2 linked regions of the Homo sapiens genome follow. The protein of the gene in region 1 purifies or fractionates together with the protein of each later gene. This does not show direct contact. Each region holds a gene or a part of one and is shown on either strand. Other genes may lie near its edges.

Region 1 (3,654 bases):
CTCTTGGGTCACTAGTTTCAGGAAATATTACTTTTCTATGGCTTTTCCCAATCTCATCTTTTTTGTTTGTTTAACCAGGGGGTACATGTGCAGGCTTGTTACGTAGATAGATTGCATAATGCTGGGGTTTGAGCATCTATTGAATTCATCACCCAAACAGTGAATGTAGTACCCAATAAGTAGTTTTTCAGCCCCTCTCCCACTCCCTTCCCCCTTTTGGAGTCCCTAGTGTCTACTGTTTCTGTCTTTATGTCCATGCGTACCCATTGTTTAGTTCCCACTTATAAGTGAGAATGCATGTGGCATTTGATTTTCTGTTTCTGCATTAATTCACTGAGGATAATGGTCCCCAGCTCTATCCATGTTGCTGCAAAAGACATAATTTCACTTTTTTATGGCTGCATAGTATTCTATGATGTATATGTACCACATTTTCTCTATCCAATCCACCACTGATAAGCACCTAGGGTTAGTTCCATGACTTTGCTATTGTGAATAGTGCTGCAATAAACATTTGAGTGCAGATGTATTTTTGGTAGAACAATTTTCCCTTGTCCCATCCCAAATTTTAAAAGTGCTCTTAAAAGAATTTTATAGACAACACTCCTAGAACAGCAGAGAACGGACCATCAAAAATTTCTTCCTCCACAATAGCAACAAAAACAGTGGTAAAAATTGTCCAAATCAACTTTTTCAGTACTCTAGGAATTAACAAAGACTTGCAACATTCCAAGGAGCATTTATTCAAGAAAAACAGCCGAATATCAGTAAAAACAGTAAGCTTTGAGGTGTTTTTTACCTTGCCCTATTCCCATCCCCCTCACTCAAGCTTTTAGAAGACTTAAAAACCATGTGCACAAATGTGGTTGTTGTGAAAACATCAGCCTAGCCACCACTGTGGACAGCAGAGGAACAACAGGTTTGGAGCTCCCTAAAAGTCCCATACTGAGAAAAATTGTCAGGAAGCCCCTTGGAAAGCTCCATGCCCCAGCTTTGTCTTTCTTTGACCTCACTCAAAGCTTGCTCTTTGAGAACAGCCCTATCCCAAGGGCATTTGTTGAAAACTATCAGCAGTAATTATTTAACATCACAGCTACCAGAGGTAGCAATACCAGTTAGGGCTAACAAAAGTCTAACAACAACAACAAAAAAAAAATTTAAAGAAAAAAATAGGAAATGAGATTTCTATAATGCTCCCAAATATTCCTTGGAACCTAAAAGGCCATGTTCATGGGCAGGGCTCTACAAATGCCCAGGAAAGATCTAAAAAGGTCCTAATCTCTCACTTCTGACTGACTTTGAGGTTCTTCTCAGGCAGAAAATAAAAGCTAAGGCAGAGTTGTAAACTGCCTGCAGTAGTATTAAACACATACCCCAACAAACACACAGAGACTCTCAGAAAAAGCTAAGAGACTTATTAGTTCAAGGAATTTAATAAACTCTCTCCACTCATTAGCTGTCCACTAAGTTGACTGAGCAGAGACTTCAGTAGCTGCATACAAAGAATACAGATTTTGCAGAATTATCCCAGAAACATAATTAAACAAACAGCAACGACAAAAATAAATAAATATGCAGTAAAAACAAGAAACCCAGGTAGGGGAAAGAATCTGAGTTTCTAGAATAGACACATTATTTTAAATGTCCAGTTTTCAGCAAAACGTATAAGACACACAAAGAAACAGGAAAGTATGGCTCATGCGCAGGAAAAAAACAACGAATAGAAATTATTCCTGAGGAGGCCCAGATGTTAAACTTATTAGACAAAGACTTTACATCAGGAATTATAAATATATTCAAAGAACTTAAAAATCAGTAACATAGCGGTCCTCTAAAATTAAAGGATAAATTAAGACAAAACTGAGAAAAGTCATCTCTAGCAGACCTATCCTACAAGAAATACTACAGACAACTCTCAAGACTAAGCTGAAAGGAAACTAGACAGTAACTTAAATCCACACAAAGAAATAATAAGCACCAGTAAAAATGTAACTGCATAGTAAATATAAAAAACAGTATAAACGTGGTTTTTCTTTGTAGCCCTTTTCCTCCACTAGATTAAAATTTAACTGCAGGCTGGGAGTGATAGCTCATGCCTGTAATCCCTCAGCACTTTGGGAGGCTAAGATGGGTGGATCACTTGAGGCCAGGAGTTCGAGACCAGCCTGGCCAACATGGCAAAACCCCATTACTACTAAAAATATAAACAATTAGCCGGGTGTGGTGGCGGGTGCCTGTAATCCTAGCTACTTGGGAGACTGAGGCAGGAGAATCACTTGAACCTGGGAGACAGAGGTTGCGGTGAGCTGAGATCTCACCACTGCACTCCAGTCTGAGCAACAGAGAGAGACCCTGTCTCAAAAAGAAAAAAGAAAAAAAAATTAACTGCATACAGCAATAATTGTAAAGCTGTATTGATGATGGCACACAATGTAGAAAGATGTCATTCGTATAGCAATAATGGCACAAAAATATGGGAGAAAACAGAGCCACATAAGAGCAAAGTTTTACACAGTATTAAAATTAAGTTGCTATTAATCAAAATTAGATTGTGAAAAATTAAGATAATTGTAATCCCCAAGGGAATTTTTAAAAAAGAACTCAAAAACATATAACAAAAAAGGGAATTAAAATGATGCACTAGAAAATAGAAAAAGAAACAACAGTATCTATCAACAGACAAATGGATAAACAAAATGGTGTATCAATACAATAGAATATTATGTAGCTATAATAAGTAATGAAGTCCTGATACATGCTACAACATGGAAGATCCTTGAAAACATCAGGCTGAATGTAAGAAGCCAGACACAAAAGGCCATATATTATTCCATTTATATGGTGTGTGCAGAAGCCATTGATAGAAAATTCATGGTGGCTAAGGGGAGGTAGAAAGAGGAATGCCTGCTAATAGGTATGAGGTTTCTTTTTAAAGTGATGAAACTATTCTAAAATTGAATGGCTGTGATGGCCACACAACTCCGAATATATTAAAAACCACCGAATTTTATACTTTAGATGGATGGATTTCCTTTTTTTGTGAATTATATCTCAACAAATCTATTTTTTAAGTTATACAATAAGTAACCAACAAAAATAATCACATACATATATGTAGATTCTATCAACTACACGTCAATACTAAAAATTTCATTAGGGCCCTACTGTTATTCAGTGGGTCTTAATCTCTATAAGCCTCTCTGGTAGTAGAATAAAATACTAGAATGGGCAAAAGGGAATGTTCTTCTGTCTTAAAAGCCAGGGACCTTTCCCCCTGACAGAATATGATCCATTAAAGGACCTTTGTCATTAATTTCCTGACAACTGGTTTACCTGCTTCAGGCCAACAATGGATTTTTCAACAAGAAATGTAGTCTAAGGAGAAAGCCATCTTTCCTCATCTGCAACTGTGACACCATGACCTTCTGCCTTCCCCTCCAACACTAGAATAACTTTCAGTCTCAAAGTCCTTAAAAAATAAATAAATAAAAGTTTCTCCCTTCAACATTCTGCAGAACATCACATTCACTACTGGCATTCCCCACTCCTACTCCAACCTCACCCTCCTGGCAGCAGTGATAAGTTCTGCCAGTTAGTGTTCCATGTGGAACTGCTGAGACTTTATTAGGAGAAATGCCATTAAAAATAATAAGA
Region 2 (3,754 bases), on another chromosome or scaffold:
ACTGCAACCTCCGGCTCCCGGGTTCAAGCTATTCTCCTGCCTCAGCCTCCCAAGTAGCTGGGATTATAGGCGCCCACCACCATGCCCGGCCATATTCAGTTTTTATTAGTTCGTGATAGTAAGTTCTCAGATGAGAACTCTACTACACCATTCTCCTAATTCCTCCCTTGGTCACTGGAGAGGGAACAGTATGAAACTATTTCCATTGTTTTTACTTGGATAGGGTAAGATATAGTAAAGGCATCTCTCTGCTGCATACAATAATAAAGAAGAATCCAGAGACCTAGATTATAAAAACATGGTCAGTATATGGAGCTGTCTGTAAAGAAGACTTTTTTTTTGCTTTTAATGGTGAATTTTATGATATATAGATAATACTTGATTTATTTTAGGAGGAATATGAGCATCATTTTAAGAAATAAACATTTCATCTTAGCAAAAGATATATCAGTTATATTAAATATCAAACCAATTAATTAATTAAAACAATTAAGTACAGTATCAGGTATGAAATATCCAAAATAGGCAAATCCATAGAGACAGAAAGTAGACTAGTGGTTTCTAGGGGCTGGGAGTAGAAGGGAATGAGAGACTATTAGTGAGTATGGGGTTTCTAATATTCTAGAATTAGATGGTAGGGATGGTTGCACAATTTTGTAAATATACTAAAAACCACTGAATTGTATAATTTAAAGGGTAAATTTTTTGGTATGTGACATATCAATATAGCTGTTATTTACAAGTAAATAAGTTCTATATCTTGCTTCAGGTACATACATACATGCAAAAATTCACTGACTGTACACTTAAGATTTGTGCACTTAACCATATGCATGTTATGCCTCATTAAAAAAATTGAAAAAGTGAATGAGTTTTCAAATCCAAATTTGTCAACTTGAAATTTTGATCTGAGGATGAATAGCAGTAAGGGAGAAATTTAAATATTTAGAATTACTCCAAGGGTATATTGTGGTAGGGTATGTCTTTAGCATGAAGTGTGTGAATTTCATCTCAAGGTTGTCTAGGGGCTAGATTCTACCCTGCCGAGTTCAAAACCTGTGTATAACCCACAGCTGAGATCACAAAGACTTGTGCCAAGAGGGCCACATTTGGGGCTCATGGAGAAGTCAATCTGTAAAACTTGTAATGAAGAAACATTTTTACTAAATGAGTAATCTAAACTAGAAATGAACAGAATCATATTCAATATTTATTTAAAAAGAAAAAAGAGAAGCTAAATGTGCTGGTTAATTTTTTGTTGGCTTACTTGTTGGTCTGTGATCGGTGTTGTCAGGCAGCTGCACTCCCATGCTTTGTAAAAGATTGGAAGCAGGTCCTGCCAGTCCAGCTTGGGAGCTATAGGATTCCAATATATTTGAAACCAGGTTCAGGTCTACATCTACTGGTGCCATAACAGATTCTCCCGTACCAGAATCTTCCTCATCTGAATTGTTATCGGTAGTCTGGGATACAGGTTCCTTATTCATAGAGGGAAAAGAAAATTATGGGCTAATGTATCATTAGGTTGCATGGTGGTTACAATAAAAAGATAACTAAGCCACAATGTAAATTTGCATTCCAAATTAAAAAGGAAACTTCTTATCCTTGGTGATATAAACTGAAAATGAAGTCTACAAGTTATATGGCCTAGCACACATAATAAAACTTGGTTCTAAAGGTTATAACACATTTCTCTCCAGGAAAGATTCCTGCAAATCGAATAAATTGCATGTCTATTTTGAAATAGCTCAAGGGCTAATAGAATTAAGAAGGTACATTTATAACTTGTCTAAGAGTCTTAAAAGAAACAAACATAAAAGTGAATATTAAATGAAATAATAATGTAAATTTTCTTCAAAATGAAAGAAGCGAGTGTTCCTTTCTTTCCCCCCAGTGAAAAAGCTTAAAAGTAAAAACACAAGGCTTTGTGGTTCCAACCACAAAGATTCTAAATTGTTAGTTGGGCCTCTGATTCCACAAGCTGGGGAAAGGATTTGAAAGATTACAGCTCGATAGACTTTTATGTCCTTGCTACCCAAAGCATTGTCCATGGAGCAGCAGAGTCTCCATCGCTTGGGGCTTATTAGAAATGGAAAAACTCAGCTGGGAGTGGTCGCTCATGCCTGTAATCCCAGCACTTTGGGAGGCTGAGGTGGGTGGATCACTTGAGGTCAGGAGCTCCAGAGACTAGCCTGGCCAACATGGTGAAACCCTGTCTCTACTAAATATACAAAAATTAGCCAGGCACGGTGGTGCGCACCTGTAGTCCCAGCTACTTGGGAGGCTGAGGCAGGAGAATTGCTTAAACCCAGGAGGCAGAGGGTGCAGTGAGCCAAGATCGTGCCACTGTACTCCAGCCTGGGTGACAGAGGGAGACTTCCATCTCAAATAAAATAATAATAATAATAATAAAATAAAACAAAATAATAATAAAAAAAAGGAAAATCTCAAGCTTCATCCCAGGCCTACTTAATCAGAATCTATGTTGTAACATGATCTTTTGGTTTATATTCGCATTAAAATTTAAGAAATACTGCTTTAGATAAATCTAATGTATGGTTTCTACTAGATTTTGACAATTCTGGAAGTGACTATAGTTTTAAAAGTGGTTTAGATGATCAAAGCAAGGAGAATTAACATTAATTAAAGGCCTATTGTAGGTTTTACTGCTGTCTAATTTGGTTCTCATGTTAATTTTATGATATGAGGATTACTGGTTTATAGATACATTCACAGTGGACAGCTGAGCTAGACTTCAAACCCTAACCCATAAGACTCCAGGGTTCTTGCTCTTTCCATAATACCTCTGTTTAGGATTAGACAGTGGTGGCATTAAAAACTAGGATGAAAACATAAACGGAAGGTGAATCCTAAATTTGGCTCTAAATTAGGGAAAAATACAAAATAAACTGTTAAAACTGGAAAGTTATTTGAATGTTTAAGATCCTGTTTATTTACTTATGTTATTTTGTTTTAATCCACTGTGGCCCAAGGCATAGTCTCAAAAGGTCTTGAGAACATGTGCCCTCTCTTTTTTAAAATCCATTTAAGCTGTAGTTTTTTTAAACTACTTTTGAAAAAAAATGTATTTAAGAAGTAGTAGTGTACAATCGCATTCTAATTTGAGCATATTATATGACTTTTTATTTTAAATCCTGATAGATAACGTAGAATAAGTAATATAATGAAGCTTATGTTTTGGAAAATTAAGTCTATGATCCTTTATCCTACCAGAGTTAGGAAAACAATTAACATTCTTATTTATTTCAAATCTCACACACCAAAAAAAGAAAAACTATGATAAAATATGGTTTTAGCTATCTGACATACTAGACTCAGAAAGAGAAAGAGGTTAAAAACACACATACCACTTGGTTCCTAGTGGTGAAACTTTTGCTGATGCAGGTGTGTGCTAGTTCCTGGTCCATCTGGGCCATGTATGACTTGAGATTATCAAGTGTTCCTTTCAGGGAAGCCTCTTCGCCAGGTTCGTGTGTTTCAAAGTCCAAGTCATCATCACTATCTAAACATTCAAAGTCTTCATCATCCAGATCATCAGAATCTGACTCATTAGGCCTTGGCCCTACACAGATCCCAAGAAAGAAAGAGCCACTTAGTAATTATTATTATTATTATTATTATTATTATTATTTAGTTACTACACATCTCAAAATAATTAGAATGTTACCCACAGAAAAAGACTAATACACACAGTCAGTCTACTTCACAAAAATCCCTTCTACAAATGGTAATG

The links. The genes of interacting proteins can lie anywhere in the genome.
Region 2: the proteins of RAB27A (region 1) and ECD purify together in Homo sapiens (affinity purification with mass spectrometry; one large-scale study listed by BioGRID and IntAct). This does not show direct contact.

Annotation. Positions count from the first base shown.
Region 1 is NC_000015.10:55,230,766-55,234,419, forward strand, and holds part of RAB27A (ras-related protein Rab-27A), read right to left. Parts: intron 1-3,654. UniProt on the Homo sapiens protein: Small GTPase which cycles between active GTP-bound and inactive GDP-bound states. In its active state, binds to a variety of effector proteins to regulate homeostasis of late endocytic pathway, including endosomal positioning, maturation and secretion.
Region 2 is NC_000010.11:73,133,336-73,137,089, forward strand, and holds the end of ECD (protein ecdysoneless homolog), read right to left. Parts: intron 3,584-3,754; coding exon 3,369-3,583; intron 1,479-3,368; coding exon 1,248-1,478; 3' UTR 333-1,247; downstream 1-332. UniProt on the Homo sapiens protein: Regulator of p53/TP53 stability and function. Inhibits MDM2-mediated degradation of p53/TP53 possibly by cooperating in part with TXNIP. May be involved transcriptional regulation. In vitro has intrinsic transactivation activity enhanced by EP300.